Linked DNA regions of Homo sapiens. The protein of the gene in region 3 interacts with the protein of the main gene of each other region in a pairwise test. Each region holds a gene or a part of one and is shown on either strand. Other genes may lie near its edges.

The links.
Region 1: the proteins of AQP9 (region 3) and PAEP interact in binary tests that used the Homo sapiens proteins (3 or more experiments, as listed by UniProt).
Region 2: the proteins of AQP9 (region 3) and HHLA2 interact in binary tests that used the Homo sapiens proteins (3 or more experiments, as listed by UniProt).

The regions. Positions count from the first base shown.
Region 1 is NC_000009.12:135,554,777-135,566,938, reverse strand, and holds the start of PAEP (glycodelin isoform 1 precursor), read right to left. Parts: upstream 5,184-12,162; 5' UTR 5,138-5,183; coding exon 5,042-5,137; intron 4,646-5,041; coding exon 4,506-4,645; intron 4,120-4,505; coding exon 4,046-4,119; intron 2,696-4,045; coding exon 2,585-2,695; intron 1,602-2,584; coding exon of another isoform or gene 1,530-1,601; coding exon 1,425-1,529; intron 1,155-1,424; coding exon 1,138-1,154; exon of another isoform or gene 1,109-1,137; intron 406-1,108; exon of another isoform or gene 387-405; 3' UTR 1-386. UniProt on the Homo sapiens protein: Glycoprotein that regulates critical steps during fertilization and also has immunomonomodulatory effects. Four glycoforms, namely glycodelin-S, -A, -F and -C have been identified in reproductive tissues that differ in glycosylation and biological activity.
Region 2 is NC_000003.12:108,367,143-108,379,406, forward strand, and holds the end of HHLA2 (HERV-H LTR-associating protein 2 isoform a precursor), read left to right. Parts: intron 1-8,607; coding exon 8,608-8,658; intron 8,659-9,350; coding exon 9,351-9,415; coding exon of another isoform or gene 9,416-9,469; exon of another isoform or gene 9,470-10,115; coding exon 10,116-10,136; 3' UTR 10,137-11,143; downstream 11,144-12,264. UniProt on the Homo sapiens protein: Through interaction with TMIGD2, costimulates T-cells in the context of TCR-mediated activation. Enhances T-cell proliferation and cytokine production via an AKT-dependent signaling cascade.
Region 3 is NC_000015.10:58,180,769-58,189,063, reverse strand, and holds the end of AQP9 (aquaporin-9), read right to left. Parts: intron 5,104-8,295; coding exon 4,929-5,103; 3' UTR 3,153-4,928; downstream 1-3,152. UniProt on the Homo sapiens protein: Aquaglyceroporins form homotetrameric transmembrane channels, with each monomer independently mediating glycerol and water transport across the plasma membrane along their osmotic gradient.

The DNA.
Region 1 (12,162 bases), on a different chromosome or scaffold from region 3:
TTTTGTTTTGTAGATAAGAAACTTGAGGTATTTTCTCCACCAGAAGCTGCCCATGGGTCTGTAGGAGCTCCGGTTCTGCCAGGCGGTGGCCTGGGCCTGCCCCGACCCCAGGCCCTCGTCCCTGAATCCCACACCCAGCAGTGGCTGCGCATCCAGACAGGACATGCTCCAAGGGTTTATTAATAACCTCTGCCAGAGACTCTGCCCCCAGGGAGCAGCCTCCCCATGGCCGTGGTGCAGGTGTGCAGCAGGAAGGGGATGGCGACACAGATGACCACGTCATCGTCTTCTGAGCTGTGGTTATTCTTTGAAAGGGCAGGAGGAAGTCCCACTGCTCTGGAGGTGTGGAAGGGTGGGAGTCTGGTCTTCCTGGAGGCGGAGGTGAGCTGTTGGGTTTACAGGTCACTTAAGTAGAGGGAGGAAGAGCAGGGTGTTTCGGGGGAGCCCTGGAAGGATGTGGTGGGCTTGAGGACACCCCCTTAAGAATGTGGCACTGAAATCCCAGCACTTTGGGAGGCTAAAGCGGGGGGATCATGAGGTCAAGAGATTGAGACCATCGTGGCCAACATGGTGAAACCCCGTTTCTATTAAAAATACAAAAATTAGCTGGGCATGGTGGCACACGCCTGTGGTTCCAGCAACTCGGGGGGTTGAGGCAGGAGAATCGCTTGAACCCAGGAGGTCGAGGTTGCAGTGAGCTGAGATTGTGCCACTGCACTCCAGCCTGGTGACAGAGCGAGACTCCATCTTAAAAAAAGAAAAAAAAAAAAGAACGTGGGACCGAGACCTGCAGGTCCCCAGCTTCTCATGCCCTTCCATGTAACCATCCTCCTTCCTCCTCCTATAGCCCCCACCATTTCCAACCAACACCCCTAACCCCAAAAGAAAGCATGAGGTCTGACTATAGGGCACAAGCCCGTGACTAATACAATGGCTGCAAGACACAGGCTGGGCTCGTGAATGGGGACGTCAGCAGCCTGGCTTTCTGGAATCACAAGACCAGACCCCAGTTCATTCCTGTAGGGTCAGCCCTGAACTGGACACAGTAGGGTCTGTCCCAGGGGCCCAGAGAGGCAGCCGCAGACAGTGGGCGAGGCTGATACATTACCCAGGAGGCAGGACCAGGCAGGAGCTCACCTAGAAACGGCACGGCTCTGTGGGAGGAGATGGGACAGTGGAGGTGTCAGCGAGAGAAGAGACAGCTGGGGACACAGCAGCCCCAGGGCTAGAGAAGGGATGAAAGGATGGTGGGAGAGGGCAGGACCCCACCTCAGGGTGGCTCTGCACCCCAGAAGGCCAGGGGAGAACAGGGGAGGGGCCAAAAAGGAGTGACCTGAGTCCTGCAGAGCCAGCAGGGGGCTCGGGCTAAGAAAGAGGCAGCTTCTCCTCCAGCTGAGGCTGGGCGTGTCCTAGGCAGAGCTCACCTTCCATCTGTTTCAAGTCCAGCAAGTACCATAGGTGCCTGGGCAGGGGCCTGAAAGCCCTGATGAATCCCTGCATGATCTCATCGTCCTCCACCAGGACTCTGGCTGTGGAAGAGGCTGGGTCAGTCCTGGGCCCCTGGGGCTTCCATGAGAGCTGGGGAGCTCCAGAGGCCTTGCCTGAGGAGGGAGGGCAGAGAAGGAGGCCCCAGTGCTCCGAGGTCTGGCAGAGTTTGGTCTGGAGTAGGTCCCTAGGGCGGTCTCCGGGGCTCTGTCCACTGCACCTCCAGGTTCCCTGACCCCAGCTCCCACTCCTTGGCCCGGCCCCCTCTGCTCCGCTCTGGGCAGCGCTGGGGTCTGCACAGCTTAGGATGGTGTCTACAGCGTCACAGGAGAGCACAGTGCCTGGCTCTCCCAGTGCCCGGCTCTCACCAAGCATGGCTGAGGCTGATCAAGAAGACACCTGTGTGACCCCAGAGGAAACACTGTGCTCAGAAACATGGGGAAGGGCTGTGCCTATGTGGCTATTTTGGTATTCCTGGCCTTCGTTTGGTTGACAGCATCATAGGTTTCAGGGCGTTTTGACTGGACGCCCAGTGAGTATTAATCTATCCACCAAGCCCAGCCCCTTGACTGGCGACCGTCCCACTGGCCCTATATCAGCTCCTTGCTTTGTCAGAGGACTCGATGAACCGCTGGAGAAAAACTCAGCCTGGCCGGGCGTGGTGGCTCACGCCTGTAATCCCAGCCCTTTGGGAGGCCAAGGCGGGTGGATCACTTGATCCAGGAGTTGGAGACCAGCCTGGCCAACATGGTGAAACCCCGTCTCTACCAAAAAATACAAAAATTAGCTGGGCATGGTGGCGTGCGCCTGTAATCCCAGCTACTCTGGAGGCTGAGGCACGAGAATCGCTTGAATCTGGGAGGCAGAAGTTGCAGTGAGCCGAGATCACGTCACTACACTCCAGCCTGAGTGACAGAATGAGACCCTTTCTCAAAAAAACAAAGCAAACAACAAACAAATAAAAAAAACCAAGAAAAAAAAAGTCAGCCCACAGGCACCGAGGTGGACAGGAAGCCAGTTGTCAGCTCCCCAGGGTTCCCAGCCACGGACGTAGCTGCTGCCTCTCACCCACGTTGAGCTCATGTGCTGTGAGACCCACCCAGGTACTGGCACATCATGCTCTGGATGGGGGTGGTGGTGTCCTGTAGGCAGAGAAACAGGAAATTGTCGTAGTCAGTATCGAGCAGCGTGGCCTCGTTCGCCACCGTATCTGGGGAAAGAAGAGAAGAACCAAAAGGAAGATGAAGCCTCCGTCTCAGCAGAGTCCTGTGCAGGTGTGTGGACATCCCACCACACTAAGTGGCTTCCTCATCCACTGACACCATGGGACGTGGCCCCTGCTGTGGACCATGATCAGGGAAGCCAGGGAGGAAAGGGGAGGAGAGGCAATGTGGAGGGCCATGGAGCCCCGGCTGAGGGGGAGAGGCCAGGTGTGCCGTGGAGAGGCAGACACGGCAGGCAGGGAGGCTGTGACCTGGAGAGACTCCAACTGAGAAGTCACGTACGGGTGAGGATGGCGGGAGATGGCACAGGAACAGGGCACAGGGGCGGGAAGAGGGAGAAGAAATGGACCTTGGAGAGTGGCTCGATTCTGGGGAGGGCAAGCAGGGTCAGAAAGGCCTGAGGCAAGTCCCAAGCATGAGAAGCAAACTGTATTTGCTGGGAAAATGTGCCCATGAGGGGATAAGAGGCCCCAGACCCTGACCACCTCTGTCTTTTTAAAAAAATAATAATTAACAAAATAGAACAAAATGTTGCAAATTGTTAGGAAGAATTCAGTGGACCAAGGACATGCTGTAAGCCCCTCTCTCTTCCCCCAGAGAGGCCTGGGAGCTCAGCCTAAGACCAGAGCTGCAGCCCCAGAGTGCGCAGGAGGCAGCCAGGCCCACGGGAACAGCAGCCACTTGCCCACCTGCCCACCTGCCCACCTGCCCACCTGCCCACCTGTTCACCTACCCACCTGCCCACCTACCAACTTGTTCACCTGGCCACCTGTTCACCCACCCACCTGTTCACCTACTCACCTGCCCACCTGTCCACCTACCCACCTGTCCACCTGTATACCTACCCACCTACCCACCTGCCCACCTGTTCACCTAACCACCTGCTCACCTGCCCACCTGTTCACCTAACCACTTACTCACCTAGCCACCTGCCCACCTACCCACCTGTTCACCTACCCTCCTGCCCACCTGTATACATATCCACCTACCCACCTACCCACCTGCCCACCTGCCCACCTGCTCGCCTGCAGCCTCCCTGGCCTTTTGTGAGGCCAGAGTGAACAGTGCAACAAAGCACCTGTCCCCTGTGCCTGGGCACAGTGCAGACCCACATCCAGTCATGTCATGCCAAGAATTAGTGCTTCCCCTGCCCTCCAGGTAAAAGATGCCTCTGGGGTCAGCATCAGGTTGACCGGAGTAAACACTCTGACTCCCTGAAGCAGAGAGAGTGGGGACAGGCCAGGCCCCACTCCCTCATGCCCCAGCAGAGCCGCCTCTGGGAGAGCGTGGCTAGCATGCCAGCACTGAGCCAGCCCTTGGGGCCTGGGGACACTCACAGTTGATCTTGAACTTCTTTGGATTCTCAGTCTTCTCTCCAAGGACCTTCTTCTCAACACAGCTGTTGTTCTCCCTGAAAGGTGGTGACAATAGGATGAGTGGCCACTTGAATTGGAGTTGCCTTCACTGTCACTCCTAAAATCAGGTCACCACGGGAACTTCCCCGGGTCCAAGGAGCACCGCAGCCCGCAGCCGCCCAGACCTTCTCCTCAGTCTGACCTGGGGCTGCACTGTGTGGTTGGCTGTTGGCCCAGAGCCTGGGGCAGGGGATCCAAGGGGACAGGGAACGTCTGGAGCCCTGGTTTTCCACCCCACCCTCATGGAAGGGCCACAGTGAAGCCCCTGGCTGTCAGAAAATGCCTGGGGCTAAGTCCAGCTCCGCCCAACCCACCCAGTCCTGGACCCCTGAGGGGGGAGACTGAGCCCCCGCCCAGCCCGTCTCAATGATGAGAAACCCACCATCTGTGCAGAACGATCTCCAGGTTGTCCTCGGGGGTGGGCAACAGTGAGGTGATGTGGACCCTCAGAGGGGCCTTCAGTGTCGCCATGAGGGAGATGTTGTTGGTCGCCATGGCCATGGAGTGCCAGGTCCCTGCCAACTGAGGGGGCCTTGGGCTGCACGGCGGTCCCACCCCACCATGGCTCTCGTTGCACCCGGTGCAGACGGGGCTGAGTCTAACTGGGATGGGTACAGTGAGCATTGGATGGTTGTCTGCTATCTACCAGATCCTGGGCTATGAAATTTCCTGTACTTAAAATGACCAGTGTGTGCTAACTCAGGAGTGTTCCAAAGTCCAAATAATGAGTCACCTAGGATGCTGGGAAACCAGAGAGGCCACCCTAAAGATGGAGAGCAGGGCTGAGGGCTTCCTGACGTCATGGCGTCCATTCTGTGCTTCCTGTAGGTTTCTGAGATCCTGGGCTTCCTGCCTGCCCGCAGCTCCCACCCGCCCCAGGCCTCCCACAGTAAAGTGCCCGCTCCCCCAGCCTCAAACCTTTGGGAGCTCCAGGTCCTGCTTGGTCTGGGGGATGTCCATGGCCGGGACACCACAGACCAGGGCCACGCCCAGGGTGAGCAGGAGGCACAGCATGGCTGCGGCTGTGGGTGGCTCTGAGCTCTGGAGCCAGAGGGATGCTGAGGCAGTGTGGGCTCAGGGGGCCTTATGTAGGAGGAGGGCAGACAAGATCCCCGCCCACAGCCTCGCCATGTGATTCCTCGAACCTGTGACTCATCCTTGGCCCCTGGGCAGCTTCCTCCACTGGGGCAATGGGAGGCTCTTCCCTGCGTCCACGCGGGAACCTCCTCTGTGTCCGGGCTGGGCAGTTCTTGGCAGGGCCTCAGGCGGGAGGGGCCTGGGTCGGGTCCAGGCTGGCAGCGGCGGGAGCACCTTCTGGGTTGGGGCTCCTGGACAATGTTGGGTCAGAGGCCAGCACTGAGGACAGCTGTGTCCAGGGCAGGGGTATGGCCTGTGGGGCAGGCAGAGGGCCTGAGAGCCCCATGGCTGCCCCAGGATGCCACAGACATCATGCCAGTGGGTGACTGACTGCACGGTCATAATCCTGACCTGTACCTTCCACTCAGACATCCCCAGGTGTGCACACCTGTGTCCCTCAAACAGCCAGCCTCTGGACAGGTGCACACTGCCTGTTAGCACTGTTTCTCTCTGACTCACAGGCAAGACTGGGTGGAAATGGGAGGCAGTGGACTTTCAGACTTTGTCCTACAGTCTATATTGGATGTACTTTTTCCCACAGGGAAGCATCACTTTGTAACTTACAATCGAGCCCGCATCTCACTCCCTGGAGAGCACTTGAGTCCTGAGGCAAGACACGGGTGTCCACTCCCACTCCCCCATCCATCAGAGCAGGTCATTCCGGCCAGAGCAGCTAGGCAAGAAATGGTAACTAAAGGCAGGCAGATTGGGAAGGGGGAGGTATACCTGTCTCTATTCGCATATAACATCATTGCCCAGGTACAAAATTGCAAGAACTCTACAAAACCCCTCCTAGAACCGAGTGAGGTCAGCAAGGTCAATCGCACAAAAATCCACCGTGTTCCCACACAGTGTCAAGGAGTAGACAGAACCCGAAACTGGAAATTCAGGATTTGTAATCACACACACAGCATGTAGGCAAAAATCTCACCAAATATGGACAGGACTTAAACTCTGAACCCAAGGAAGGGAAATCAAAGACCTAAGGTAAAGGACAGGCACAATGTGTTCATGGGCTGGAAGCTTCAACACAGCAAAGGTGTTAGCTCTCCTCAACTCAACCTAGAGATTTAATGCAATTCCTATCAAATTCTCAGCAAGATATTTTGTAGGTAGCTATAGACATGTGTGTGACACACACACACACATATATACATATATACATTTTTTTGAGGCCAAGTCTTGCTCTGTTGCCCAGGGTGGAGTGCAGTGGTACGATCTTGACTCACTGCAACCTCTGCATCCCAGGTTCAAGTAATCCTGCTGCTTCAGCCTCCAGAGTAGCTGGGATTATAGGCGCCCACCACCACACCTGGCTAATGTTTGTATTTTTAGTAGAGAGGGGTTTTCACTATTTTGGCCAAGCTGGTCTCGAACTGCTGACCTCAAGTGATCTGCTCACCTCGGCCTCCCAAAGTGCTGGAATTATAGGTGTGAGCCACCACACCCCACCATATGTAGATATATAGAGAAATTTTTTTTTCTAAAATTTACATGTCAAGGCAAAGGAGCTACAATTGCTAAAGCCATTTTGAAGAAGAATAAAGTATAAAGAGTTAGTCTACCCAAGTTTACAAGCACTATTATCAATAGTCACCAAGAGATTGTGGTATTGGCAGAGAAATGGACACATAGATCAATGGGAAATAGAGAGTCCAAACATGGACTCACACACAACAACAACAGACCTTTAACAAAGCTGCAAGAACAGTGCGTGGGGGAAGTGTTGTCGGAAAAGAGGGTCCCAGTCCAGACCCCAAGAATGGGTTCTTAGATCTCACACGGGAAAGAATTCAAGGTGACTCACAGAGCACAGTGAAAGCAAGTTTATGGGAAATGACTCTGTGCCAGAGCCGGGCAACCTCAGCGAGCAGGAGGAACGCCCGTCCTCTGTGAGTGCCTCTGTTTGTAAGAAGCTGTAATGAGCTACAGTGAAACCTGGATCATGCAGATGCACTCGCTAAAGATAGGGGCTCCTAGTGTGATCAATGACCATTTGCCCTTCAGCCTCAGCCTACTCGTTGACGTTATTTGTGAGCAAAGATAACCCCCTGCACTCCCAGGTCATCGGTACATTCTCCAGGCTTGGTGGGAGATGCCTCGTATGGGCATAAATGTTCTGCAGTTATAATTGGTGGTCAGCTTAGTATGCGGGTATTTTCAGACCATAAGCTCGCGCCTGTAATCCCAGCTACTCGGGAAGCTGAGGCACGAGAATCGCTTGAATCTGGGAGGTGGAGGTTGCAGTGAGCCGAGATCACGCCACTGCACTCCAGCCTGAGTGACAGAATGAGACCCTGTCTCAAAAAAAACAAAGCAAACAAACAAATAAAAAAAAAAACCAAGAAAGAAAAAACCAGCCCACAGGCACTGAGGTGGACAGGAAGCCAGTTGTCAGCTCCCCAGGGTTCCCAGCCATGGAAGTAGCTGCTGCCTCTCACCCACGTTGAGCTCATGTGCTGTGAGACCCACCCAGGTACTGGCACATCATGCTCTGGATGGGGGTGGTGGTGTCCTGTAGGCAGAGAAACAGGAAATTGTCGTAGTCAGTATCGAGCAGCATAGCCTCGTTATATAACCTTATAGGTGCCTTGTGAGTGTCTAGTTATTCACGTTAAGATGGAGTCACTCTGGTCATGTTTCATTAAACCAGAGGCCTGGCAAGCGGGAGTCCCTCTAAAAGAAGGACAGTCTTTGCAACAAATGGTGCTGGAGCAATTCATCACGTGCAATCGATCCCATGCAAACGAAGAACCTCCATCTAAAACTCACACCTGACATATGCATTAACTCATAGTTTAAAAGTAAAACATAAAACTATACAACTTTTAGAAGAAAGCGTGAGAGAAAATCTTCAGGACGTAGGGCTAGGTAAAGAATTCTTAGACTTGACACCAAATGCAAGATCCACAAAAGAAAAAAACTGGTAAATCATACTGCATCAAAATCTGAAACTCTTGCTCCAGAAAGACCTTGTTAAGAGGATGAACGGGGCCGGGCGTGATGGGTCACACCTGTAATCCCAGCACTCTGGGAGTCCGAGGTGGGCGGATCACCTGAGGTCAGGAGTTCGAGACCACCTATGGCCAACATGGTGAAACACCATCTCTACTAAAAATACAAAATTAGCCAGGCCTGGTGGCACATGCCTGTAATCCCAGCTACTCAGGAGGCTGAGGCAGGAGAGTCACTTGAACCCAGGAGGCAGAGGTTGTAGTGAGCCAAGATCACGCCACTGCACTCCAGCCTGGGTGACAGAGTGAGACTCCGTCTCAAAAAACAAAGAGAGAGAGAGAGAGAAAAAAAAAAAGAGGATGAAGAGGCAAGCTACAAACTTGGAGAAAACATTTGAAAGTTTCATATCCAACAAAGGACTGGTGTCTGGAAGATATAGAGAACTTTGAAAATTCAACAGCAAAAATAAAATCCACCTAGAAAATGGGCAAAAACCATGAAGGAACATCTCCCCAGAGAAGATCTATGGGTGGCAAATAAGCACCTAAAAAGATGCTCAATGTCATTGACTATCAAGGAGCACCAATTAAGGCCACAGTGAGCTATCACAGCCCAGCTATTAGGACAGCTACAATGAAAAGTAGGGACCTATTAGGACAGCTACAATGAAAAGTAGGGACCTATTAGGACAGCTACAATGAAAAGTAGGGACCTATTAGGACAGCTACAATGAAAAGTAGGGACCAAACCAAATATTAGTGGGGATGGAGACAAACTGAATCTCTCAAAATGTTGAGAAATGCATACTTTGAGTGGCTCTAAAATGGTTCAGCCATGCTGGAAATTGGAAGTTGCTTTTGTTTTTTATTTAAAAAATTTTAAGCTTAAATAATAGAGACTGGGTCTCACTATGTTGGCCAGACTGGTCTTGAACTCCTGGGCTCAAGAGATCCTCCCACCTTGGCCTCCTAAAGTGCTGAGATTACAGGTGTGAGCCACCACGCCCAGCTGGAAGTTTCTTTTAAAACTAAGCATATGCTGGTCCAGGAGTGGTGGCTCACGCCTGTAATCCCAACTTTGGGAGGCCAGAGGGGGATGGATCACCTGAGGTCAGGAGTTCGAGACCAGTCTGGCCAACATGGTAAAACCCCATCTCTACTAAAAATACAAAAAATTAGCTGAGTGTGGTGGTGTGCACCTGTAGTCCCAGCTACTCAGGAGGCTGAGGCAGGAGAATCGCTTGAACCTGGGAGGTGGAGGCTTCAGTGAGCCGAGATTGCGCCACTGCACTCCAGCCTGGGTGACAGAGCAAGACTCCGTGTAAAAAAACAACAAAACAACACAAAAATAATAAGCATATGCTTACTATACAGCCTGGCAGTTTTACTCCTGGGCATTTATCCCGAGAAATGGGATAAATGGACACAGAAAACCCGGTACACAATTGTCCACAGCAGCTTTGCCTGTAATAGCTAATAACTGGAAAACTCCATCCGTGAATGAATGGTTAGACAGACGAGTACATCTGCCTTATGGGAGACTCAGCCATAAAACGAGGTGAACTGCTGATACCCACAGCAGCAGGAGGGCGTTCAAGGGAACTACGCTGAGTGAAAAAGGCCAACCCCAAAAGGTCGCATACTCTATGACTTTGTTTATACAATATTCTCGAAATGACATTATAGAAATTGAAAGCTGAGGCCGGGCGCGGTGGCTCACGCCTGTAATCCCAGCACTTTCGGAGGCCAAGGCGGGCGGATCACGAGGTCAGGAGATTGAGACCATCCTGGCTAACACGGTGAAACCCCGTCTCTACTAAAAAGTAGAAAAAATTAGCCGGGCGTGGTGGCAGGCGCCTGTAGTCCCAGCTACTCGGGAGGCTGAGGCAGGAGAATGGCGTGAACCCCGGAAGGCGGAGCTTGCAGTGAGTCAAGATCACGCCACTGCATTCCAGCCCGGGAGACAGAGCCAGACTCAGTCTCAAAAAAAAAGAAAGAAAAAGAAAAAAGAAATGGAAAGCTTATTCGTGGTAGCCAAGGGCTGGGCCTGGGGAATGGGTGTGTCTGTAAAGGGGTAGAACAAGAGATCTCTGTGGGGATGTACCATTCTATATGTTGATTGCCGCAGTGGTTACACACATCTACACATGTAAAAAATTGCATAGAACCACACACACACACACACACACACACACACACACAAATGAATAGAAAACTGGTGAAATACGAATAAGACCTGGTTCTGCACGATGTATGGTTATGTAAATCTTCACACAGTAGTTATGTGAGGTCTGACTGTAGCTATGCACAGCAGGACCCCTCTGTACTATTTTTGCAGCTTCCCATGAATCTATAGTTATTTCAAAACAAAAGCTAAAAAATAACAACACAACTCAAACTTCCCCTCCTGGCTAACATACAATAGCAGGTATCGTATTTGCTCACCTTAAACAACTAGAAATCCAGGAGATTTCGGAAGCAGTGCTTTCTGGATATTTGACAACAGGCCGCGAAGGATCATGATCCCTGAAAGACACAACACGAGTGCTGAGCTCTGTGACCCCAGCAAGGCCTGGCTCAGGGCAAACGAACCCAAACAGATCCCAGGGCGCCACCCCACACACGCTGAGGAGAAGAGTGTTAGAGTGTGGGGAGGCGGAGGGACTCGAATTTGCTGGGCAAAGCTTCGGAGAGAAAGGGCTACACGGAGCGCTCAGGAGACACACAGAGGGGCAGGAAGGAAACCTCGGAAATGGTCAATGGAGTGACTCTTAGAACTCACACAGCCGAGAAGAAAGCCTTCAGAATACACGAGGCAGCGGGCAGAATTCTCAAAAAGAGACTGAATTGGTAGCGGGGTTAGCAAGGGCTGTTCTGAACCCATTCGAATACAATTAAAAGCAAGTATTGGGAAGATCCAACACGTTAAAAATAATTTAACTGTAGCCACACGGAGTCTAACATTATTTAACGAAAAACAAAATGGAGTGTGTTATTTCTTGCTGCATAAGAAATTGTCTCCAAACAGAGCAGCTTCAAACAATGATTTCTGAGGGTCAGGAGGTGGGGAGTGGCCCAGCTGGGTGGTTCTGGCTCAGGGTTTGCAATGAGGCTGTGGTCATGTTCTGGGCTGGGACTTTGGGCTCTGGAGAATGTCTTGGAACTGGTGGGCCACAATGGCTGGTGGGAACTTCAGGCTCCTGCCACATGAGCCTCTTCCTGGGGCTGCTTGTGACATGGTTCCCCACCATAACCAGTATGAGGACCAGTGGGGCTGATGTCACACTCTGTGTCTGACTCATGCGCCATCCCTTCCTCCTTGTCATATCTATTAGAAGTGGGTCACCAGGTCCAGCCCACACTCAATGGAAGGCATCACACAACGGAAGCCATCCTGGAGGCCAGCTGCCACGTCAAGAAACCAACAACGTGAAATCCACAAAGTAAATATGACATCCAGTTAACAATTACCAGGCAGGCAATGAAGCAAGAATATATGAGACATAACCAGGAGAAAAATCGAGTGATAGAAACAGATCCAGAAATGACAGTGATGGTGGACTTAGCAGATCAGGGTGTTAAAGACCCATTAGCAATATCTCTATGTGCTCAAGAGGGTACTGAAAGGCAAGAGCTCAAGGAGAAGCAGAGTGCAAGGCATGGAAAAGACCCAGGAAGGAAAACGGTGCTTCCACTGTGGAAAACAATTGGCAGCTTCTTAGAAAGTTAAACACATCATTATCCCATGACCCAGAAACTTTGCTTGAATTGAAAACAGGAATTCAAACAAATATTTGTGTGTGTGCATATTTGTGGCTGCACTGTTCAGAAGAACCAAAAGATGTAAACAACTCAAGTGTCTATCAAACAATGAGTGGACGAAAAGCATGGGGTTGGCTGGGCGAGGTGGCTCATGCCTATAATCCCAGCACTTTGGGAGGCTGAGGC
Region 2 (12,264 bases), on a different chromosome or scaffold from region 3:
AGAAAGCAGTAACATCAACATCAACACAAAGGACCCCCATACAAAACCACATCCAAAGGTCATCAGCCTCAAAGATCAAAGGTAGATAAATAAATGAAGATGAGGAAAAACCAGCACAAAAATGCTGAAAATTTAAAAAACCAGAATGCTTCTTCTCTTCCAAATGATTGTAACTCCTCTCCAGCAAGAGCACAAAATTGGACAGAGAAAGAGTTTGACAAATTGACAGAAGTAGGCTTCAGAAGGTGGGTAATAACAAACTCCTCTGAGCTAAAGGAGCATGTTCTAACCCAATGTAAGGAAGCTAAGAACCTTGATAAAAGGTTACAGGAACTGCTAACTAGAATAACCAGTTTAGAGGAGAATATAAATGACCTGATGGAGCTGAAAAACACAGCATGAGAACTCGTGAAGCATACACAAGTATCAGTAGCCGAATCGATCAAGCAGAAGAAAGGATATCAGAGACTGAAGATCAACTTACTGAAATAAGGTGTGAAGACAAGATTAGAGAAAAAAGAGTGAAAAGGAATGAACAAAGCCTCCAACAAATATGGTACTATGTGAAAAGACCAAACCGGTGATTGATTGGGGTCCCTGAAAGTGATGGGGAGAATGGAACCCAGTTGGAAAACACACTTCAGGATATTATCCAGGAGAACTTCTCCAACCTAGCAAGACAAGCCACTATTCAAATTCAGGACATACAGAGAACACCACTAAAATACTCCTTGAGAAGAGCAACCCCAAGACACATAATTGTCAGATTCTCCAAGGTTGAAACAAAGGAAAAAAATGTTAAGGGCAGCCAGAGAGAAAGGTCAGGTTACCTACAAAGGGAAGTCCATCAGACTAACAATGGATATCTCTGCAGAAACCCTACAAGCCAGAAGAGAGTGGGGGCCAATATTTAACATTCTTAAAGAAGAGAATTTTCAACCCAGAATTTCATAACCAGCCAAATTAAGCTTCATGAGTGAAGGAGAAATAAAATCCTTTACAGACAAGCAAATGCTGAGGGATTCTGTCACCACTAGGCCTGCCTTACAAGAGCTCCTGAAGGAAGCACTAAATACAGAAAGGAAAAACCAGTACCAGCCACTGCAAAAAAACACCATAATATAAAGACCAACAACACTATGAGGAAACTGCCTCAACTAATGTGCAAAATAACTAGCCAGCATCATGATGACAGGATCAAATTCACACTTAACAATATTAACTTTAAATGTAAATGGACTAAATGCCCCAGTTAAAAGACACAGACTGGCAAATTGGATAAAGAGTCAAGACCCATCAGTGTGCTGTATTCAGGAGTCCCATCTCACATGCAAAGACACACATAGGCTCAAAATAAAGGGATGGAGGAATATTTACCAAGCAAACGAAGAGCAAAAAAAAAAAAAAAAAAAAAAAAAAAAAAAAAAAGCAGGGGTTGCAATTCTAGTCTCTGATAAAACAGACTTTAAACCAACAAAGATCAAAAAAGACAAAGACGTTACATAATGGTAAAGGGATCAATGCAACAAGAAGAGCTAACTATCCTAAATATATATGCACCCAATACAGGAGCATCCAGATTCATAAAGCAAGTTCTTAGAGATCTACAAAGAGACTTAGACTCTCACACAATAATAGTGGGAGAGTTTAACACCCCACTGTCAATATTAGATCAATGAGACAGAAAATTAACAAGGATATTCAGAACTTGAACTCAGCTCTGGACTAAGCGGACCTAATGGACATCTACAGAACTCTCCACCCCAAATCAACAGAATATACATTCTTCTCAGCACCATATAGCACTTATTCTAAAATCGACCACATAATTGGAAGTAAGGCACTCCTTAGCAAATGAAAAGAATGGAAATCAAAACAGTCTCTCAGGCTACAGTGCAATCAAATTAGAACTCAGGATTAAGAAACTCACTCAGAACCACACAACTACAAGGACACTGAACAACCTGCTCCTGAATGACTACTGGGTAAATAATTAAATTAAGGCAGAAATAAATAAGTTCTTTGAAACCAATGAGAATGAAGACACAACGTACCAGAATCTCTGGGACGCAGCTAAAGCAGTGTTGAGAGGGAAATTTGTAGCACCAAATGCCCACATCAGAAAGCAGGAAAGACCTAAAATCAACACCCTAACATCACAATGAAAAAAACTAGAGATTCACGGGGGGAGGAGCCAAGATGGCCGAATAGGAACAGCTCCGGTCTACAGCTCCCAGCGTGAGCGACGCAGAAGACGGGTGATTTCTGCATTTCCAACTGAGGTACCAGGTTCATCTCACTGGGGAGTGCCTGACAGTGGGTGCAGGACAGTGGGTGCAGTGCACCATGTGTGAGCCAAAGCAGGGTGAGGCATCACCTCACCCAGGAAGCACAAGGGGTCAGGGAATTCCCTTTCCTAGTCAAAGAAAGGGGTGACAGACGGCATCTGGAAAATTGGGTCACTCCCACCCTAATACTGCGCTTTTCCAATGGGCTTAACAAATGGCACACCAGGAGATTATATCCTGTGCATGACTCAGAGGGTCCTACACCCACGGAGTCTCGCTCATTGCTAGCACAGCAGTCTGAGATCAAACTGCAAGGCAGCAGCGAGCCTGGGGGAGGGGCACCCACCATTGCCGAGGCTTGAGTAGGTAAACAAAGCAGCCAGGAAGCTCGAACTGGGTGGAGCCCATCACAGCTCAAGGAGGCCTGCCTGCCTCTGTAGACTCCACCTCTGGGGGCAGGGCACAGACAAACAAAAGGCAGCAGTAACCTCTGCAGACTTAAATGTCCCTGTCTGACAGCTTTGAAGAGAGTAGTAGTTCTCCCAGCACGCAGCTTGAGATCTGAGAACGGGCAGACTGCCTCCTCAAGTGGGTCCCTGACCCCCGAGTGGCCTAACTGGGGGGAACCCCCAGTAGGGGCGGACTCACACCTCACACGGCCGGGTACTCCTCTGAGACAAAACTTCCAGAGGAACGATCAGGCAGCAGCATCTGTAGTTCACAAGTATCCGCTGTTCTGCAGCCACCACTGCTGATACCCAGGCAAACAGTGTCTGGGTGGACCTGTTTAGTGGACCTCCAGCAAACTCCAAAAGACCTGCAGCTGAGGGTCCTGACTGTTTGTTAGAAGGAAAACTAACAAACAGAAAGGGCATCCACACCAAAAACCCATCTGTACGTCACCATCATCAAAGACCAAAGGTAGATAAAACCACAAAGATGGGGAAAAAACAGAGCAGAAAAACTGGAAACTCTAAAAATCAGAGCGCCTCTCCTCCTCCAAAGGAACGCAGCTCCTCACCAGCAACGGAACAAAGCTGGACGGAGAATGACTTTGACGAGTTGAGAGAAGAAGGCTTCAGACGATCAAACTACTCTGAGCTAAAGGAGGAAGTTCGAACCCATGGCAAAGAAATTAAAAACCTTGAAAAAAAATTAGGTGAATGGCTAACTAGAATAACCAATGCAGAGCAGTCCTTAAAGGACCCGATGGAGCTGAAAACCAAGGCACGAGAACTACATGACGAATTCACAAGCCTCAGTAGCTGATTCGATCAACTGGAAGAAAGGGTATCAGTGATGGAAGATGACATGAATGAAACGAAGCGAGAAGAGAAGTTTAGAGAAAAAAGAATTAAAAGAAATGAACAAAGCCTCCAAGAAATATGGGACTATGTGAAAAGACTAAATCTACGTCTGATTGGTGTACCTGAAAGTGATGGGGAGAATGGAACCAAGCTGGAAAACACTCTGGGGAAGTTCTCCTGGATAATATCCTGCAATCTAGCAAGGCAGGCCAACACTCAAATTCAGGAAATACAGAGAACGCCAGAAAGATACTCCTCGAGAAGAGCAACTCCAAGACACATAATTGGCAGATTCACCAAAGTTGAAATGAAGGAAAAAATGTTAAGGGCAGCCAGAGAGAAAAGTCGGGTTACCCACAAAGGGAAGCCCATCAGACTAACAGCTGATCTCTTGGCAGAAACTCTACAAGCCAGAAGAGAGTGGGGGCCAATATTCAACATTCTCAAAGAAAAGAATTTTCAACCAGAATTTCATATCCAGCCAAACTAAGCTTCATAAGTGAAGGAGAAACAAAATCCTTTACAGACAAGCAAATGCTGAGAGATTTTGTCACCACCAGGCCTGCCCTAAAAGAGCTCCTGAAGAAAGCACTAAACATGGAAAAAACAACCGGTACCAGCCACTGCAAAAACAGGCCAAATTGTAAAGACCATCGAGGCTAGGAAGAAACTGCATCAACTAACGAGCAAAATAACCAGCTAACATCATAATGACAGGATCAAATTCACATATAACAATATTAACCTTAAATGTAAATGGGCTAAATGCTCCAATTAAAAGACACAGAGTGGCAAATTGGATAAACAGTCAAGACCCATCAGTGTGCTGTATTCAGGAAACCTATCTCACGTGCAGAGACACACATAGGCTCAAAATTAAGGGATGGAGGAAGATCTACCAAGCAAATGACAAACAAAAAAATGCAGGAGTTGCAATCCTAGTCTCTGATAAAACAGACTTTAAACCAACAAAGATCAAAAGAGACAAAGAAAGCCGTTACATAATGGTAAAGGGATCAACTCAACAAGAAGAGCTAACTATCCTAAACATATATGCACCCAATACAGGAGCACCCAGATTCATAAAGCAAGTCCTTAGTGACCTACAAAGAGACTTAGACTCCCACACAATAATAATGGGAGACTTTAACACCCCACTGTCAACATTAGACAGATCAATGAGACAGAAAGTTAACAAGGATATCCAGGAATTGAACTCAGCTCTGCACCAAGTGGACCTAACAGACATCTACAGAACTCTCCACCCCAAATCAACAGAATATACATTCTTTTCAGCACCACACCACACCTATTCCAAAATTGACCACATAATTGGAAGTAAAGCACTCCTCAGCAAATGTAAAAGAACAGAAATTATAACAAACTGTCTCTCAGACCACAGTGCAATCAAACTAGAACTCAGGATTAAGAAATTCACTCAAAACTGCTCAACTACATGGAAACTGAACAACCTGCTCCTGAATGACGACTGGGTACATAATGAAATGAAGGCAGAAATAAAGATGTTCTTTGAAACCAATGAGAACAAAGACACAACATACCAGAATCTCTGGGACACATTCAAAGCAGTGTGTAGAGGGAAATTTATAGCACTAAATGCCCACAAGAGAAAGCAGGAAAGATCCAAAATTGACACCCTAACATCACAATTAAAAGAACTAGAGAAGCAAGAGCAAACACATTCAAAAGCTAGCAGAAGGCAAGAAGTAACTAAAATCAGAGCAGAACTGAAGGAAATAGAGACACAAAAAACCCTTCAAAAAAATCAATGAATCCAGGAGCTGGTTTTTTGAAAAGATCAACAAAATTGATAGACCGCTAGCAAGACTAATAAAGAAGAAAAGAGAGAAGAATCAAATAGATGCAATAAAAAATGATAAAGGGGATATCACCACTGATCCCACAGAAATACAAACTACCATCAGAGAATACTATAAACACCTCTACGTGAATAAACTAGAAAATCTAGAAGAAATGGATAAATTCCTTGACACATACACTCTCCCAAGACTAAACCAGGAAGAAGTTGAATCTCTGAATAGACCAATAACAGGCTCTGAAATTGTGGCAATAATCAATAGCTTACCAACCAAAAATAGTCCAGGACCAGATGGATTCACAGCCGAATTCTACCAGAGGTACAAAGGAGGAGCTGGTACCATTCCTTCTGAAACTATTCCAATCAACACAAAAAGAGGGAATCCTCCCTAACTCATTTTATGAGGCCAGCATCATCCTGATAGCAAAGCCTGGCAGAGACACAACCAAAAAAGAGAATTTTAGACCAATATCCTTGATGAACATTGATGCAAAAATCCTCAATAAAATATTGGCAAACCGAATCCAGCAGCACATCAAAAAGCTTATCCACCATGATCAAGTGGGCTTCATCCTGGGATGCAAGGCTGGTTCAACATATGAAAATCAATAAACGTAATCCAGCATATAAACAGAACCAAAGACAAAAACGACATGATTATCTCAATAGATGCAGAAAAGGCCTTTGACACAATTCAACAACGCCTTCATGCTAAAAACTCTCAATAAATTAGGTACTGAGGGGACGTATCTCAGAATAATAAGAGCTATCTGTGACAAACCCACAGCCAATATCATACTGAACGGACAAAAACTGGAAGCATTCCCTTTGAAAACTGGTACAAGACAGGGATGCCCTCTCACCACTCCTATTCAACATAGTGTTGGAAGTTCTGGCCAGGGCAATCAGGCAGGAGAAGGAAATAAAGGGTATTCAATTAGGAAAACAGGAAGTCAAATTGTCCCTGTTTGCAGATGACATGACGGTATATCTAGAAAACCTCATCGTCTCAGCCCAAAATCTCCTTAAGCTGATAGGCAACTTCAGCAAAGTCTCAGGATACAAAATCAATGTGCAAAAATCACAAGCATTCTTATACACCAATAACAGACAAACAGAGAGCCAAATCATGAGTGAACTCCCATTCACAATTGCTTCAAAGAGAATAAAATACCTAGGAATCCAACTTACAAGGGATGTGAAGGACCTCTTCAAGGAGAACTATAAACCACTGCTCAATGAAATAAAAGAGGATACAAACAAATGGAAGAACATTCCATGCTCATGGGTAGGAAGAATCAATATCGTGAAAATGGCCATACTGCCCAAGGTAATTTATAGATTCAATGCCATCCCCATCAAGCTACCAATGACTTTCTTCACAGAATTGGAAGAAACTACTTTAAAGTTCATATGGAACCAAAAAAGAGCCCGCATTGCCAAGTCAATCCTAAGCCAAAAGAACAAAGCTGGAGGCATCATGCTACCTGACTTCAAACCATACTACAAGGCTACAGTAACCAAAACAGCATGGTACTGGTACCAAAACAGAGATATAGACCAATGGAACAGAACAGAGCCCTCAGAAATAATGCCGCATATCTACAACCATCTGATCTTTGACAAACCTGACAAAAACAAGCAATGGGGAAAGGATTCCCTATTTAATAAATGGTGCTGGGAAAACTGGCTAGCCATATGTAGAAAGCTGAAACTGGATCCCTTCCTTACACCTTATACAAAAATTAATTCAAGATGGATTAAAGATTTACATGTTTGACCTAAAACCGTAAAAACCCTAGAAGAAAACCTAGGCAATACCATTCAGGACATAGGCATGGGCAAGGACTTCATGTCTAAAACACCAAAAGCAATGGCAACAAAAGACAAAATTGACAAATGGGATCTAATTAAACTAAAGAGCTTCTGCACAGCAAAAGAAACTACCATCAGAGTGAACAGGCAACCTACAGAATGGGAGAAAATTTTCGCAACCTACTCATCTGACAAAGGGCTAATAACCAGAATCTACAATGAACTCAAACAAATTTACAAGAAAAAAACAAACAACCCCATCAAAAAGTGGGCAAAGGATATGAACAGACACTTCTCAAAAGAAGACATTTATGCAGCCAAAAAACACATGAAAAAATGCTCACCATCACTGGCCATCAGAGAAATGCAAATCAAAACCACAATGAGATACCATCTCACACCAGTTAGAATGGCGATCATTAAAAAGTCAGGAAACAACAGGTGCTGGAGAGGATGTGGAGAAATAGGAACACTTTTACACTGTTGGTGGGACTGTAAACTAGTTCAACCATTGTGGAAGTCAGTGTGGCGATTCCTCGGGGATCTAGAACTAGAAATACCATTTGACCCAGCCATCCCATTACTGGGTATATACCCAAAGGACTATAAATCATGCTGCTATAAAGACACATGCACACGTATGTTTATTGCGGCACTATTCACAATAGCAAAGACTTGGAACCAACCCAAATGTCCAACAATGATAGACTGGATTAAGAAAATGTGACACATATACACCATGGAATACTATGCAGCCATAAAAAATGATGAGTTCATGTCCTTTGTAGGGACATGGATGAAATTGGAAATCATCATTCTCAGTAACTATCGCAAGGACAAAAAACCAAACACGGCATATTCTCACTCATAGGTGGGAATTGAACAATGAGAACACATGGACACAGGAAGGGGAACATCACACACCAGGGACTCTTGTGGGGTAGGGGAGGGGGGAGGGATAGCATTAGGAGATATACCTAATGCTAAATGATGATTTAATGGGTGCAGCACACCAACATGGCACATGTATACATATGTAACAAACCTGTATGTTGTGCACATGTACCCTAAAACTTAAAAGAATAATAATAATACAAAATAAATAAAAATAAATTGTACATCAAGTAAAAAAATTAAAAAACTAGAGAAGCAAGAGCGAACAAATTCAAAAGCTAGCAGAAGACAAAAAATAACTAAGATCAGAGCAGAAATGAAGGAGATAGACACACGAAAAACCCTTCAAAGAACCAGAGAGTGACTTTCAATTGAAGGACAGAGCCATACCAAGGTGACCTTACAGGGAAACAGCTGGGAGAGTAAATACCTAATTTCACTCTTCCCTGTCTCTGATCTACAGCCCAGCTAGAAGCCAGGAGGAGCAGACACCCTGCTGATGGAGCCCAACAAGGTCAGCCTCCCATGTCTGAGAGAAGAATGGATTCTGGTTCTGGAGGAGCAGTCAAAAGATATCGGCAAAAACTCTGTCACAGTATTGGCCACTTTAAAAAATAGATATATTCCATACTTCTGCAGTGAGATGGGCTGAAAATATATTTGAAGCTGTTATATGAAAAGCCACAAAACCTTTCCTAGCTCCAGCTCCCTGGTTGTAGTTTCATGACTGTGGTTCATATGTTTTATTTTTAAATTCCCTTTTCTATTACTGTTTTAAAATGTACTTTGTCTAAGATATGTATTAAAGGGCCATATTTTAGGAAAGTCCATAAGGAGACCTTCTTTGAGAAATGACATATCCCTTTTTCTTTAACCATCACTCTCATCCCCTCTTTGGCTATGACATTTCCATTGTTAGCAGTTGGTAGGAACCAGGCCAAGGATCACAAGGAGCCAGGAATTGCTGAGCTGACTGAACTGCCTTTATTCCCCGGCTTTGGAGCACCTGGATCAACCATACACATTTACTGCTGCTTCTGATGATGTGTTTTTACACTGAATGCATTTTTCATGTTGTTTGTTAAAGATATGCAGGGAGAGTAACTCAGATGATTCTAATAACATGATTATATTGAGATAGGACTAAGGGAGAATTTTGGTGTTTGCAAAGAAATTATTTTTAAGTTCTCTTTTTTTTTCCTGTAGAAAGATGTTGTGTCCCTCCTGGTGAGCGCTGTCCCAGTGCACCCGATAATGGCGAAGAAAATGTGGTAAGGCATTATTTCCTTTATCAAACCATATACAGTATAAAAATGCTTCTTTAAAAGGGTAATTGAAGTTCTGACTGATTCACATATCATCAAGCAAGACTTTTATACAGAAAAAAACAGCAGCAGGGGTTGCAGGATAATATAGCACGAAAAATATAATTAGGCTTTTCCCAATGTCTATAATTAAACAGGCTCTACTTGCTTAAATACATGGTTGTTCTTCTTGTCTCCTATTGTTATTTGTAGAGAAGATCTCCAATGGCATTGTGCATATGAGGGTGAGCCAATGTACTTATTCTTATGATAGAAGCATGAAACATGGGATTGTATACAAGTGGAAAGAAACACAACTATAATTCACTTGCAAATTATAGTTTGATTGTATACTTCCTTTTTACTGCATTCCTTTTAGTATTTATGTGTTCCATTAATCAGAGTATAAATAAGGGCCAGGAGTGTGGTAAACTTGTTTTTTCCACTGTTAAAAACCATGAAACAGCTAGTAGGGAGATTAAAATTAACTGATAAGACTCAGACTTATTTTATAATGGTCTCATGGATCTTTAATTTCAGATGCAAGCAATAGACTAAAGCTTTTTGCCGCCCACCCCAAAACACTACTATCAATAAATATTTAAGATATAAATGGTTATTCTGACTTGAACAACAGACATTTAGAGTCTATTTTTCTTGCTTCTAGCCTCTTTCAGGAAAAGTATAGGAAATGAGAGAAGACTGTGACAACTCATGACCTGCATCCTTAATATCCAGTGACTTCATCTCCCCTTTCTTCACCACAATTCCAGGCAATGGCCTGTCGGAGCAGACAATTCTACCACTGCAAAGAGTTGTAACCATTTTCTGGTATCACATTTATTTTTCAAGACATACTTTTCAAGACATCATTCACTGACCCACTACCTGCATTGAGTATAAATGCCTGGATGTTAAGGATTCCAATTTAACTTTGAAAAGAACTGTCTCATTCATTTACATTTCTGTTACAGTCAGCCCAGGAGGTTACAGTGAGCTCTCCACTAAGAATCTGGAAGAAATGCATCACTAGGGGTTGATTCCCAATCTGATCAACTGATAATGGGTGAGAGAGCAGGTAAGAGCCAAAGTCACCTTAGTGGAAAGGTTAAAAACCAGAGCCTGGAAACCAAGATGATTGATTTGACAAGGTATTTTAGTCTAGTTTTATATGAACGGTTGTATCAGGGTAACCAACTCGATTTGGGATGAATCTTAGGGCACCAAAGACTAAGACAGTATCTTTAAGATTGCTAGGGAAAAGGGCCCTATGTGTCAGGCCTCTGAGCCCAAGCCAAGCATCGCATCCCCTGTGATTTGCACGTATACATCCAGATGGCCTAAAGTAACTGAAGATCCACAAAAGAAGTAAAAATAGCCTTAACTGATGACATTCCACCATTGTGATTTGTTCCTGCCCCACCCTAACTGATCAATGTACTTTGTAATCTCCCCCACCCTTAAGAAGGTACTTTGTAATCTTCCCCACCCTTAAGAAGGTTCTTTGTAATTCTCCCCACCCTTGAGAATGTACTTTGTGAGATCCACCCTGCCCACAAAACATTGCTCTTAACTTCACCGCCTAACCCAAAACCTATAAGAACTAATGATAATCCATCACCCTTCGCTGACTCTCTTTTCGGACTCAGCCCACCTGCACCCAGGTGAAATAAACAGCTTTATTGCTCACACAAAGCCTGTTTGGTGGTCTCTTCACATGGATGCACATGAAACTATGAACATAAGAATCTCTGAAGTTAGGTTACACTTGACCACACAAGGCTTGCATAGTTGAGTGACTAGCCATGAAGATAATTTAAACAACTCTTCTGGCTCAATTGGCATATTGCTAATCAATCTTCTAATAAATTTAGATTTTCATATAAATTTTTAAGCAAGAGAAGGGAGAACTCAGCTAACCTAATCTGTTTCCCTTAATTTTAGTCATCAATTTACATAAAAGAAACAGTCTAATGTTAATGCTTGTGAACTTGTCACTATAACCAGGCTTTTGTGTGACTTAGTAGATCAAGGTTTCAACTCTATAAGAGAAAGCAAATTCTGAATTGTGGTGTAACTGCCACCTGGTCCAATTTTATCTGACCTCAGTTTCACAATCCTCTCCTTGTATGTAGTTAACTCTGTTTTTGCTACAATGTTGTGATGGGTTATCACAAATAGCAAAGTATTAAGAATTCCAGTCAGAATGTTAATTATTAAAAAGTCAAACAATAGATGCTGGCAAGGCTGTGGAGAAACAGGAATGCCTTTACACTCTTGGTGGGAATGTAAATTAGTTCAACCATTGTGGAAGACTGTGTGGCGATTCCTCAAGGATCTAGAAACAGAAATACCATTTGAACCAGCAATCCCATTACTGGGTATATACCCAAAGGATTATAAATCATTCTACTATAAAGACACATGCACATGTATGTTTATTGCACTATTTACAATAGTAAAGACATGGAACCAACCCGAATACCCATCAATGGTAGACTGGATAAAGAAAATGTGATACAAACACCATGGAATACTATGCAGCCATGAAAAGGAATGAGATCATGTCCTTTGCATGGACATGGATGAAGCTGGAAGCCATCATTATCAGCAAACTAACACAGGAACAGAAAACCAAACCACATGTTCTCACTCATAAGTGGGAGCTGAACAAGGAGAACACATGGACACAGGGAGGGGAACAACACACACCAGGGCCTGTTGCAGGGTGGGGGGCGGGGGAGGGAACCTAGAGGACGGTTCAATAGGTACAGCAAACCACCATGGCACACATATACCTATGTAACAAACCTGCA
Region 3 (8,295 bases):
TATTCTCTAAACCACTGTGCCACTCTTAAAATATTTATTCACATTTATAATTGAAATTAAAAATGAAGACATTCTCTGTTTCTGTTAAATTAATCAAAGAACATTTTATCTGCTGCAAGACAATGAGCCCAAAGGAGACCATTTGTCTGCAAGGAGGCTCGGTGGTGGGAAGTGCAGGAGTCTTGGCTCAGGACGGAGGGTGACCGAATGGTCCCGGTATTGGCACTGAATCCTGCATCCCAGGAAACGCTTGAGTTCCAAGCAACCTGGGATGGTTGGTCACCCCACTCAGACACGCGGTTCGCATCCCACCTCTTTCACTCTTCACTCCGGAACTTGGTACAAATTGTTTAAGGCCTCGACTCTCAGTTTCCCTATCTCTAAGTGGAGATAATAATCTACTTGCTGAGCTGTTCTGAGAGTCTTAGAGGTCCTGGATATGAACGTGCTTTGTGAACTGTGAGACACTAAGAATTAAAGCACAAGAATTGTTCTTTAATAACACGTTACGCAGGACCTTTGCATCGGGGGTACTCGGGCCCTGGACCGCCCTGCTTCCTCTGCAGGAAGGAAGTCAGGAAGCCACTCTCCTGCTGGGAGCCTGAGGTGGAGGGCGGAGTGCCACGACGTGGCCGATCCCCATGAACAGTGGTCTGGGCTCTGGAGCGTCCCTCACAACCTTCAGGACTCCCAGGGCTCCCGCAGTGTTTCCTAAGACCCCACAGTGAGGGAGTTGAGGGCCCCGTGGAGGAAGGGGCTGCGTGTGAGGGGCTCTGGAACACAGGGGGGCGCGCTAGAGTAGGGAGGCAGTGGCAGATAGTAGGACTTCCTTACTGGGCGCTATGTCTGGAACCCATGCTACTAAGAGACCATGGGAAGGCTTAAATATCTCCTGAAATCACATCCAGAAAAAAAGAATATAATCGAGCTTGTCACCAGAACAATTACAAAACGATTTAATTGATACTTTCAGGGGTGGGGAGAGGTCCACAAAGGCAAAAGTGTCGAAAGCTACTAGAAACATAAGGTAGCCCTGGAGGGAGACAGAGTCCAACTGGCTTGGGCAGCATCTCCATCCACACAGAGTTCTGTGGATTCATGTTCAGTTTGCCTGGTGCCCTCTTTTCACTAATCCAGAGACAGCATCTCTTGAATAAGAGCTACTCCGTTTCCAGCAATAAGAAAGAGATTGGAGCATGGTTGGTTGCTTACCTATCTGTCTGTCTATCATCTATCTATTTATTTTTATACAGACTTAGACAGTCAACACAGTAAGTGTGACCAGGAGTACCATTGCTTCTGTGTATGGGCTGTGATTAGTAAACATGTTGTCACAGAGAACTTAAATTCCCAGTTTGAGGACTGATGTACCACATCTCTTTGTGGGTGATGTTTGCTGGATTGAGTAATTCTGTTCACCCTGTCTAATTCATTTATTAAAAAGTCTTTGGAAAAGACCTGAGATTAAGTTAATATGGTCTTTTGTAGGTTATATCCTTGAAACTTTCATAAAAGTGTGCACCAACAACTTATCCCAAGTCTTTATCAATGATTTTCAAACTGTGACACTGTGTTCTGAAACCCCACCCCCAGCCCTGACACACACACACACACACACACACACACACACACACACACACAATTTCTCTTCAGAGACCCCTTAGGGGCTGCATTGGGGGTGTGTTTTTAAGATGATATCACAAGCAGAATGAAGCTCCTGATCCCCCTCCCTTTTTTTATTTATAGCAATTCTGGTTCACTTGTGGGTGTCATATAAGGTTTTATTTGAACGACAGGTTCTGTGGCTAAATAAAACTTATAAACCATTCTCTCTAACTGGAAGATGTATTTTTTTCCCATGACGATATTATTGAACATCAATATACCTTACAGTAAGACGTGTGTGTGTGTGTGTTTGTGTGTGTGTAAGCAATTTAAAGGAAATAATAATTTATATCCTAAGGATAACATTTTACGTATGACATTTTTATGTGGAGTATCCTGTTTAACAGCTGAATATTGACTGGTTGTTACTGGTTAGAAAAGCCCTGCAACCTTTGACATGCTCTGAGATCTCAACTGGTTAAAGAATCAGAGAAATTATATTTTTGGCATTAAGATAAATGCTTCTATCAAGTTTTTCGATTCATGAGGTGGAGGGAAGGAGGAATGTTACAATTCTAACTCTTAAAGCAACTATTTAAAAAATGGATAAGTTGGCTCTATCTAGTTGACTTTGGATACAGATAATTCAACCATATAAACATTCTCTTGGAAAATAACTCCACAAAGGTAAATCCACTTATTTGTAAATGGGGGTAGGGGTGGGGAGAGAATTTGAGTGTGAGCACCTGGAACAAAAGCACTTTTTTCCATTGAAAAAATTCTTCCTGGGGTTGATTTCCATAATGGTACATTTCCTGTTTATAAATCCTAGTCATCAATCATCAAATTGTGTTTAATGAGCACCTGTGTAGATCATAGATTCCACAGTTCATCCTCAAAACTCAAATTTTGAATTGCCTCTTGCTTTAAGAATTATAGTCCACCCCCAGGGTTTGTTCCTGGTTTGTCTGGCACCTTTGCTCCTGACTGAACTTGAATCAAGGTGCAGGATTTCAGTGTCTTCTCTTACTCCCCTCCCTACCTTTCCTCGACACCAAGATCTCCGAACCTCAGCATTATTGACATTTTGGGCCAAATAATTACCTGTTGGGAGGGTTGCCTTTGCATTGTAGGATATTTGGCAGCATCCCTGGCCTCTAGCCACTAGAGGCCATTAGCATCCCCTTCCCAGTTGTGATAACCATAAAAGTCTCCAAATATTGCCACATGTTCCCTTTAGAAGTAGGGAGGGAGGAAAACCATTGCTCTAATCCATGAGGATCCCAAGACTCTGGAATCCTGCTAGGAATTACCTGGCCACTACTGGACATGGTCAAAGAAACTTTAGACCCGTGTGATTTACCCAAGTCAATGTTCTCAACCCTTGCTGCATTTTAGAATCACCTGAGATGTTTACAAAGGACCAACTGGGCACCAGTATTTTTTCAAAAGTTCCCCCAGGAAATTCAAATTTGTAGACACAATAGACAACCTCTGAACTAGACGTACTTAGTAATCTTAATACTTATAAAAACCAACCAAGCAACCAACAATGACCGAACAATTTTATTTCAAATAGGAAATATCCAGGTAGCTTCAAAGCAAGAAAAAAAAATCCCGTATGTCCATAGATTGTAGAACATAAGTCATCAGAAACATTTCACATTTAATTTCTGCTGTTCTGATATCAGCACAAAGCAGTTGGGAAACCTAATGCCTTTGGGAATTCTGGGCTTTTTGACAGTTTGACTGAAGGTGCATCCCTTGATGTAGAGCATCCCCTGGTGCTTGTAACTCATAGGCGATCTTTTGTCAAAAGTAACATCTATTAGAGAACTTCAAGGGGAAAAGACTGAGCCAGAGGAAATCCCCTGAATGTAATGTTTGGTGCTGGCAGGAAGCAAGATCAAGACTTAGCAAGACCAGAGGTGGCTTAGGAAGGGAGGCCTTCTCATAATGTTTTTCAGCAAATGAAAGTTATGATTAAATTGCTACCACTTTCCTTCATCTGTACTCAGTAAGTGTGGGAATAGACCCAGACAATGAGGGTCTTTGTATCTTAAGATTGAGGAACATTTTGTCCAGAGGTGTACATATTCTAGAAGCTGCCAATTCCACTTCTGGCTAGCAAGGAAGATTTGGCAAAGATTGTCAGCCAGCTACTGATCTTCTGAAAGGTAGAGGAATGCATTAGATAACATTCAACTTTCAGTGTGCTCTTGGACAACTCAACTTATCTTCCCTAAGATTTTGTTTCTTTATCTGAAAAATGGGCAATGTGGCATTTGCCTCACATAGTCATTATGAGGATTAAATTAGATAATGGGTGTGAAAGTGCCTTGTGAATTGTTAAGCCCAATAAGGTAATATCTTTTTGGAGACCTCCCACTCTGAAGATTCAGCTAGACCAGGATCCAGTGGCTTTCAGTTTTGGCTTCTAGGGCATGTGTAAAATAATGGACAAGCACAGTCGTTGATATAACTTGTCAAATGTCTGTTCTCAAGTGGGCAATTAGGAAAATACATTTGAGCTAAAAAGACAGAGTGATGTATTTTTCATGACTGAGGTTACAATGGTATTTTAGGTTATTATATACTAAAGACCAGGAAATTAATTGGTGTCCTCTAAAATGCAGGAGAGCAAGAGATTAATCTGATAAATGGTTTCCATTAAAAATTCCATTTGGCTTCTCAAATTCATCTTGTCTCCTGCAGTTTCTGAATGCCACAATGTCCTCCCCTTGTGCCTTCCAGCTGCATTCTCTTGCTCCCTACACCACTAGGTTTGGAGAATATCAGTATTTATACAAATCCAGTAGCATAGCGGGAACTGGAAGCTTAACCCATTAGCTCCCTAATTCATGAATATGTTGACTGAAACCATAGTTTTGTCTTTCAATTTAGGGTTTGGTTGGTACTCAGAATGTAATCTTTGTCGATACTGAAGAAAAGGGTTTTGGTGACACCATTTCATACAGATAGTGCAGCTGAAACCACCCAAATGGGACTATCGTCAAGATGCCGAGTTATTAGTGCTTACCTAGCAAGAATTCCCATCGAGGATGAAATAAACAGGGCAGGAGAGAAGGCTGTTTCAGGGGACAGTCAGCGTTATTCTGGGGGGTGGGGGTGGGGGACAATGGTAGAGAAGTGGTCATTGTTTCCAAACTTTTATGCAGATGCTTTTCCAATTAGATGTCCCATATGGCTAGCAGACAAAACTGGGTGGATTCCACCTCAGGCTTACAAGAACACAGACACTTAGATGCCATCTTTCTGAAGAGAATCCCAAACTGACTGCAAATCCAGAGCTGAGCATGCCACTACATGATGACACTGAGTTCATATTTCTCTGGTTTGTCCTCAGATTGTTCTGTCTTAAAGACTGAGTCAGGCTCTGGATGGTGGATTTCAATGACAAGAACATAGATGAGGCCTCCAATGACAGCACCAACCAAAGGGCCCACTACAGGAATCCACCAGAAGTTGTTTCCAGCTCTGAAATCAAACAAGAAATTAGTGATACATTTCTTGGCCTTCCTCCTGGTATTACTGTCTAGTTTTTCACTCACTTGTTAGTCTTTCTCACACTCATGGTTCCCTCTTAACTCAGCAAGAGCTAAGTATAAGGGGGGCTCAGTGCAGCATGGCAACTGCCATCCTTGACTTTCCACTACACCTGATTTCAGATGATCTATTTAATTGTCCTACTAATATTTGTGAGATATTATGTCTTATTTATTTTCTTTTTATAAAATATAGTGCCTGAGCCCATCGTTAAGATTGAGGGCCCCTAAGAAAGTTCAGGTCAATTATTCAGAATTGCCTTTCCCTCATCCTGAAATAATGATTCCTGTGGATTACAAGCAGAATGTGGAGAGATTCCTGGGCATCATTAGTGTATGAGGACAATCAAACTAATCAATCAGGAAATGTTTTTCAATGAATGAATGAATTTTTAAAAAATCTAAGGTGGATGTGTGAATTGCCTTCTAAATATAATTTAAATCAGTACTTATTTTTTAAGATCTTAGCTTGAGGCTACCCTCTGATAAGGCTGTCATGCCATGGCTCTCTCTCTTCCAGAAATCCTCAATGTTAGTACATTACAGCAAAGCTATAGTTCTGGGGAAAAGCAGGTATCTTTGTGAGTTGTCACCATCTTCTTTGGAGAGAGAAAATCCATGTAAATAATTTCTTAGAAAGGATCAGGAAAGCAAACAAATTATACAGTATATTGTTTAAGGATATATACATTTAAGATAAAAGTATTTTTAAAAAGCAGGGGAATGGAAAACACAAAACTTCAGGATAAATGCAGAGGGGATGGGAGACAAGAGGAGTACCCAGAGGCATGTAAGAATTTCAGTGTTCTAGTTGGATTCTAGAAGGACCCATAGCTTTTCTTTTCATCATTATGCTGAATAACTACACATATGTTCCATGTGGCCTTTTGTATATCTCAAACTTTGATTAGAAAGAACGATAAAGGAAATAAGCAGGACACAAGAACCCTGTCCTAGAATCCAGGAAACTAAGTCTAATCTCAAGATTATCTAGAAGGTCTTTGAGCAAATCAAACCCCCATTCCCCATCGTGAGCTCCATTTCCTTCATCTGCATGGTCCCTTCCACCTGGGGCACCTAAGTGGTCTCCGAAGTCCTCCATTGCCCTTGCAGGGTTGATGGAAGAGCACTGAGCCTGAGCATGGCAGCCACCAGATGTCACTCTTACCACACGGCAGCGAGGATGCTGTACTCGGCCGCCCTCACAGTGCCCTTCCCCAGGCCCCAAATCCAGATGGATTTTTCTAGGGGAGGCACATGGAGGGTGGCTGCCTCTCCCGTTTGGCTGTAAAGACTTGAAGTCTTCTCTAGAGGTCAAAACATGAAGGGAGTATAAGCTACCTGTTGGGTCCATCATTTCCTTTTATGGCAAATTTCTTCCTGTCATTTAGCAGATGAAGGTCCAAGATATCAGCCAGGGTACACGTCCTCTTCACTGGCTGGATGCTTTTTATTTTATCAGATTGGACATGTTGTATCAGGTTCACAAGTCACAAATGGAGGCGCTCAGATGTGGTTACCTGCCTAGCCTAGTCCTATATGCACACAAATAGTGATCATTTGCACACTATGATTCGGGAGATGCCAGGAACATGTGTATGTTAACTGTCTAAAGGACCATCTTTAGGGATTCAATACTTTGGGCCAACTATTTGAAAAATTTAATAATACTCCTGAGAGCTTTCACTGATTAAGTCATTAACAATGTGAATAAGTGGAGAGAAATTTGATGGGAAACATCTTAACATTTAAAGGAAAAACCAAGAGTCTTTGGCCAGGGTCTGTTGACTCTTGCCCTCATCAAACCCTCTGGCATCTCGCTGTACCTGCCATCATTCCACTGCTTGCCGTTCAGGAGTACATGGGGACCTGGGAACAAGGTAGCCTTGTTTTTTTTCTAAGACCTTAGGTGTAGGTCCAAGCTAGGATATCTACTGAGGGATTTCCCTTGAATATAGAACTCTGAGGAAATGAGACACTCTAAGAACACTTTGGAAGCCTGTTGTCCCTCAAAGGTTTTGGGGAGAAATTTTTGGTTGAGGATTACCAGCCAACCCTGCTCTTTCCTAATGGGTTTCTACTTCCCCACTCTCTCCTTTTTCAATCAGTCTTATAGGATGATGCCAGATTAATTTTGCTAAATTGACATTCTAAACCTGCCAAACTTCTGCCCCAAATACTTTGCTACTCCCTATAACCTACAAAACAGGGAGCAGAAGAAAAGCCAAAATTCTCATTCTGGGAGTCCAGGTCCTCTATGATCTGACAACGGCCCTTTCCAACTTTCTTTCTGCACCCTTCCAGCTAGACTAGATCACTTGTGATTTTAACATTGTGTCTTTGAATAACGGTTCTCTCTGCCTGAGATAACCCCTCTGTTGCTTGTTTAAGCATATCCAAATACTATAAATGTTCCCACTTCCACTCCCATAATTCTTAAATTTGGAGCTGTAGACCTCTAAACTCCTGGAGTTAATTAGTCAAATCTCTTTAATGGCACTTGACTGCTTCAACCTTGTGTAAGAGCTTCTGGAATAACCTCTTAAGTAGAATATAAACACAACAGTGAAGGACAGAAACTAGGTCTTATCATCTTTAGTGGAGAGCCTTGAGTAAGATATCAAGTAGCTGCATGAATGAATAAATGACTCCATGGAAGGGAAAAGATCCTGATGCTAGCTAAGGACATGGGACATTAGGTGATTCCAACATTTTCCTTCACGTGAGTTCTCCTAACATATACTTAACAGAGCAAAGGGACATTGGGCAAGATCTCCATCTGTTTTGGAACCACCATGTCTCTTTGACTTTTGAATGAATCACCAAGGAGGTCTCAAAGGGGGTGGAAGAAGAGCTTGGTCTCCAAGACTGAGACTCTGGATGGTGGAATTAAGGGAAACTCATGGGCGAATTCTGGGCTCTGGGAATAAGGAGATCCTTAGGACATATGTTTTTGATGCTCCATTGGAAAGATACAAGAGATCCATCCTAGTTGCGGACATTTTCGTGTTCTAGTTGTGATCATTCTAGGAGAGAATTTCTCAACCACAAACCTATTAACATTTTGGACTGAATAATTCTTTGTTGTGGGAGGTGTGCCGTGTGCATTGTAGGATGCTTAACA